Linked DNA regions of Homo sapiens: region 1 is linked to region 2. The links come from fine-mapping of genetic effects on gene expression. Tissue or cell type: whole blood. Region 2 holds a variant in brackets; the other region holds the start of a gene. All regions are shown on one strand. Distances are from middle to middle. Region 1 holds the start of MDS2 (myelodysplastic syndrome 2 translocation associated). Region 2 overlaps MDS2 (myelodysplastic syndrome 2 translocation associated).

Evidence for each region.
Region 1: MDS2 starts here. The variant in region 2 is fine-mapped to the expression of MDS2 in whole blood (TOPMed, PIP above 0.99).

The regions. Positions count from the first base shown.
Region 1 is chr1:23,625,453-23,628,367 of GRCh38, forward strand. MDS2 (myelodysplastic syndrome 2 translocation associated) reads left to right here and starts at 1,882. Exons shown (of 6, transcript NR_167910.1): 1 at 1,882-2,085; 2 at 2,329-2,546. RefSeq lists an enhancer at 336-455.
Region 2 is chr1:23,632,517-23,635,431 of GRCh38, forward strand. The region is part of intron 4 of MDS2 (myelodysplastic syndrome 2 translocation associated); the gene reads left to right. Among named protein-coding and RNA genes, the nearest start is that of MDS2, 6.6 kb to the left of the region's middle. The variant A/G (reference allele first, on the strand shown) is at 1,509.

The DNA of each region.
Region 1 (2,915 bases), 7.1 kb before region 2:
CTCAAACTCCTGACCTCAAGTGATCCGCCTGCCTTGGCCTCCCAAAGTGTTGGAATTACAGGCGTGAGCCACCATGCTCAGCCTAATTTATGTCTTTAAAAGATCACTCTGACTGCCTTGTGATCAACTATCTATGAACTGATCTAAATACTTCTTGAAGCCACTAGTATTTTTAGCCAGTACCCCCTCTGTGTGAAGCAAAACTTCCCTTTACTGGTCTTAAATTTACTTCTTTCGAGTTTCAAGGGGAGCCCCCTTCTGCCTCCTATCTTAGGGTTAGTGGCCCAATGCGAGATCTCTAGTAAAGGTTTTCACAGAGTGGGTGGGAGGAGGGTCTCCCAGTTTATACCTTACCTGCTCTGTGATGTTTCACCACCTGTAAAATGAAAATAATGAGAGTGGCCACCTCAAGAGGCTTTGATGATGAAATGGGACACAGCTTGGCAGCAGGGAGTAATCAATATAGGCTAGCTTCCATGCAGATGACAATTATGGTGATCAGGAGGAGGATGATAATGATAGGGATGATGGTGATGGTGATGATGATGGTGATGATGGGGATGATGGTGATGGTGATGATGGTGATGTTGATGGTGATGGTGATGATGGTGATGGGGATGATGATGATGGTGATGGTGATGGTGATGATGATGGGGATGATGATGATGGTGATGTTGGGGATGATGATGATGGTGGTGATGGTGATGATGATGGGGATGATGATGATGGTGATGATGATGATGGGGATGATGATGGTGGGGATGATGGTGATGGGGATGATGGTGATGGGGATGATGATGATGGGGATGATGGTGATGATGGGGATGATGATGGTGGGGATGATGGTGATGGGGATGATGGTGATGGGGATGATGATGATGGGGATGATGGTGATGGTGATGATGATGATGGGGATGATGATGATGGGGATGATGATGGGGATGATGAGGATTCTGTTGTGTGATATTGGGGGAGTCAGTGAATGACATTTTCCATGTCTGTCAAATAAGGGTGTTGGACCAAATGATCTGTGAAGGTCCATCGAGGTCTGATGTTCTAGAATTTTCTAGTTTAAGTGCTCTCTTCCTCCTTTCAGCCTGGGTTACCCTCTTCCCTGCAATTTTGGTGCTCCCTAGTGATGTGTGATGAGAGATGGAGTATTATAGTAGAGACAAAACTGATGTGGAGTCAGGAGGCCCGAGGTTCCAGCGGCACCATTTATAGTGGAGTCTTCATCATGGTGCATTTAACTTACACACATTTTTTTTTTCTCTTTGAGACAGGGTCTTGCTCTGTCACCCAGGCTGGGGTGCAATGGCGTGATCTCGGCTCACTGCAACCTCCACCTCCTGGGCTCAAGTGATTCTCATGCCTCAGCCTCCCAAGTAGCTGCGGTTATAGATGTGCACCACCACGCCCGGCTAATTTTTGTATTTTTCACAGAGACGGTGTTTCACCAGGTTGCCCAGGCTGGTCTCGAACTCCCGGCCTCAAGTGATCTGCCCACCTTGGCCTCCCAAAGTGCTGGGATTACGGGCGTGAGCCACTGCACCCAGCCTAATTTACACACATTTAAACACGCGTGTAAAGGGAGGGGAGAGAGAGAGAGAGCACGTTGTGCATGAATCACTGCTACAGAGTCACACTCCAATTCCACTTGGTGAGCACTCACCCCTTGAGAGGGAATGTGACCTGCCAGGTTCCCCCCGCCGGTCCAAGTTCCTGCACTTCCAGCCTCATGTGGGCTCTCATCATGCTGAGTGTGATCCTGCTGTTCAAATGGTTTTTATGTGGTGTGGCCCCAGATACAAGCCAACCATTTCACCTGTGGTGAGCGGAAGGCGCAGCTATCTATAACACCTGAGAAAAAAAGAACCTGCTGTACTAGCTGTCAGCTGCTGGAGACCTTGCTTTCTGTTTCACTGGGAAACAGAAGCAATCAGAAGGAAACTTCCTCAGACTCCACCTCTCCCTTCACTCCCGCCTGTATCCGTGCCTGTTACCTGGACGCCTTGTGGAACTTGAATTCTACGCCCTCCACTGGGACACTGCCCTTCATCCTCTCTCACCTCCTCCAGGACAACAGTGAGCAATTCCTTGCGTCTCTCCCACAGCTCCAGGGGTCCCCCTCTTCTGCTGGCTCATTCACATCACCACACAATCGGCTGCAGTTCTTCCAATTGTACACACACACACACACATGCACAAGCCCATGCACACACACCCCCACACCCACACCGTCATATTTCTTTGCTCCCCCTTCCAGGAAAACATCTCAGTGTTTTCTGAATTGACCATCTTCATCCCTCCTTCCTTTTCTCTCTCCAGCTCTCTCTGTGGGGCTTTCACCCCCATCGCTCCACTGAAACTGCTCTTGTCAAGGTCATCGATGACCTCCCGCTGACAAACTCAACTGTCCCATCTCTACACCCCAAACTGACCCATCAGGAATAGCATGAGCTCCACCTTCCAAAGCTTCCGCAATCTCACCGTCTCCACCGTTACTACCTGTGTCCGAGGCACCACTGTTTCTTGCCTGGAGTTGTGTAAGAGCCTCTCAGTGACGTTCCCTGCTTTCTTTCTTTTTTTTTTTTTTTTTTTTTGAGACGGAGTCTTGCTGTCGCCCAGGCTGGAGTGCCGTGGCGCCATCTCCTCTCACTGCAAGCTCCGCCTCCCGGGTTCACGACATTCTCTTGCCTCAGCCTCCCGCGTAGCTGGGAATACAGGCGCCCGCCACCTCGCCCGGCTAATTTTTTGTATTTTTAGTAGAGACGGGGTTTCACCGTGTTAGCCAGGATGGTCTCGATCTCCTGACCTCGTGATCCGCCCACCTCGGCCTCCCAAAGTGCTGGATTACAGGCGTGAGCCACCGCGCCCGGCCAATTTTTTTTTTTTAGACGGAGTCTCGCTCTGTT
Region 2 (2,915 bases):
ACTTGAGCCCAGGGGTTTGAGACCAGCCAGGGCAACATAGCAAAACCCTATCTCTATAAAAAAATACAAAAATTAGCTGGGTGTGGTGGTGTGTGACTGTAGTCCCAGCTACTTGGGAGGCGGAGGTGGGAGGATTGCCTGAGCCCAGGAGGTTGAGGCTGCAGTGAGCCATGATTGCACCACTGCACTCCAGCCTGGGCAACAGAGCAAGACCCTGCCTCAAAATAAAATAAATAAATGTGGCTAGTGAGACTGAAAAATGAAATTTTTATTGTATTTAATTCTAATTAATTTAAACTTAAGTGGCCACATGTGGCTAGTGGTTACTGCATTGGACAGCATAGTTCTCAAATGTTTACGAAGAACACACATATTGGCTTTGCAAAGAGGGAAAAGAGAGCTTTTCTTCCTTTTTTTTCCCTTGTGTGTTTATTTGTTCTGCCCTGGCTTCTTGAAGAGCTCCTCTGAAATCCCAGGGAGAGGCAGTGAATGCAAGGGCTTTGCAAACTGTTAAGTGCTGTACTCAGGAGATGCTGCTGTATGAGACTCTTTTTCCCCTTGCCTGGAACCCTTTTTCTCCTCTCCTCATGGGCTCCCAGCTAAGGTAGAGCCCTGACCAGAGAAAGCATCTTTGGGTGGTCTCTCAAGGGGGAACAGGGTATCCTGGGGTCTGGCCCCTGCAGCTAAGGCCCTCTCCTGAAAAGACTTTCCAGAAGGCATTCATTCACTCATGTATTCATTCAACAACCATTACTAACCATTCTCCTTCTCACCAGTCACTGCACTAGGCCCTGGGTACAGTGGCGTGGCTTAAAATCTAGGCTTTGGGAGGTATGGAGTGGTAACTGACAGGGCTGGGACACAGAAGGCCAGCTCAGCCACCCGTGGGCATGCCCCTTAATTTTCCTAAACCTCTATTTTTCTCTTCTGTAAAAGCAGGAAAATAGTGACACTGTCTTGCCAATCCCCTAGGGTCAATCAGGGCTGAGAAAGTTAATTACAGAGGCCTGCAGAGATATTCGTGATCAAAGAATATGCCTTCCTGGGAGAATAAGCGGGTAGTGACAGCCAGCTCCAATGCCCATGTAGATATTATTATTAATAATATTTTATCAGCCAGGCGCGGTGGCTCACGCCTGTAATCCCAGCACTTTGAGAGGCCGAGGCAGGCAGATTACGAGGTCAGGAGATCGAGACCATCCTGGCTAACAGAGTGAAACCTCATCTCTACTAAAAATACAAAAAATTAGCCAGGCGTGGTGGCAGGCGCCAGTGGTCCCAGCTACTCGAGAGGCTGAGGAAGGAGAATGGCGTGATCCCAGGAGGCGGAGCTTGCAATGAGCCAAAATCGAGCCACTGCACTCCAGCCTGGGCGACAGAGCAAGACTCCGTCTCAAAAAAAAAAAAAAAAAAAAAATTAGCCGGGCGTGGTGGCACACGCCTGTAGTCCCAGCTACTTGAGAGGCTGAGAATTGCTTCAACTTGAGAAGTGGAGGTTGCAGTGAGCC[A/G]AGATTGCACCACTGCACTCCAGCCTGGGTGACAGAGCAAGACTCCGTCTCAAAAATAAATAAATAAAATAATAATAATAATATTTTATCACAACACATCACAGTTTCTTTAAGAGTAGTTAAAATATCAACCTTAAGGAAACCAGGAAAAGGGTGTTATCATTCATCCATACAGCATTTGTTGATTCCCACTGAAGTTCCAGGCCAAGGTGGGGTAGGGGATCAGTCTGGGAATGGGGACCTGACATGCGAGAAAGACACATAAGGAAATATTCCCTTTTTATTCATTCACTCCTCTGGCATATGCCAACCCTCTGGGGACATAATGAAAGACATCCACAGCCTTGCTCTCAGGAAGCTTTTAAAGGAAGTGGGGAGGCAGATATTCCTCAAATAGCCATTCAACTGCATATTATAAACGGTGATAAGGGTTAAGGAGAGGAAGTACAGAGTGCTATGAAGACATCATGGGGGACCTTGATGTACTTGGTGGTGGGAGGGTCAGAGATGGCATCTCTGGGGAGGTCAGCATCTAAAGGAGTTGAATAAGGACTGATAGGGTGGGGAAAGAGGGTCCAGGAGGCAGAAACAGCATGTGCCAAGGCCCTGAGCTGGGAGAGGGCAGGGTGCTTGTGAGGCCAGTGTGGCTGGAACCCAGCTGGCAAAGGAAGGGGTGCGTTATGCAGCTGAGGCTCTAGTGGACCATACTTAGGAGCCAGTGAAGGCTTCAGGGAAGGACAGTGAGGACAGCTGTCCATTCTGGATGGAACACTGGAGGGGCAGAGTGGGCGAGGCATGGGCACAATGGCAGCTGGTGCCAGGGAGGCAGCAATGGGGTGGAGAGAAGGGGAGAGTGGGTGCGTAATGAGCGCGATGGCAGCCTGTGTCAGGGAGACAGCAGGGGGTTGAGAGAAGGGGAGAAATTTGAGGGCTGCTTGGGAGGTAAGTGGGGCAAGACGTGGGGTTGGATTGGCCCTGGGAGAGGTGGCACGAGAGGTCCCAGTGGGTAAGCTCTGTGACCCAGGAAGGGCTGGCTAAATCTGACCTGGGGAAGGCCTCCCAGATGGAGCACATCTCCCCGGTATCGTGAAATAGGTTGCAGCACCCCTAGTGGAGAAAAAGGGGAAAGACAGTCTATCCCTGGCGAGCAGAAATTCAGCTGGGAGTTGTCAGTGAAACGAAACTAACATTGAGTATGGACCGTGTACCAAGCCCTTTCTAAGTGCTTTACCTTCATCACCTCATTTAATCCTCCCAACAACTCTACAAGGTCGATGCTATTATCACTCTCATTTTACAGATGAGGAAGCTGAGGCTCAGAGAGGTGCTGCCACTGGGATGCGGACTCCAGGAAGCCTGACCCCGTCCTGCCTTTTAATCACGGCATCATACTGCTCTTGTGGTTTG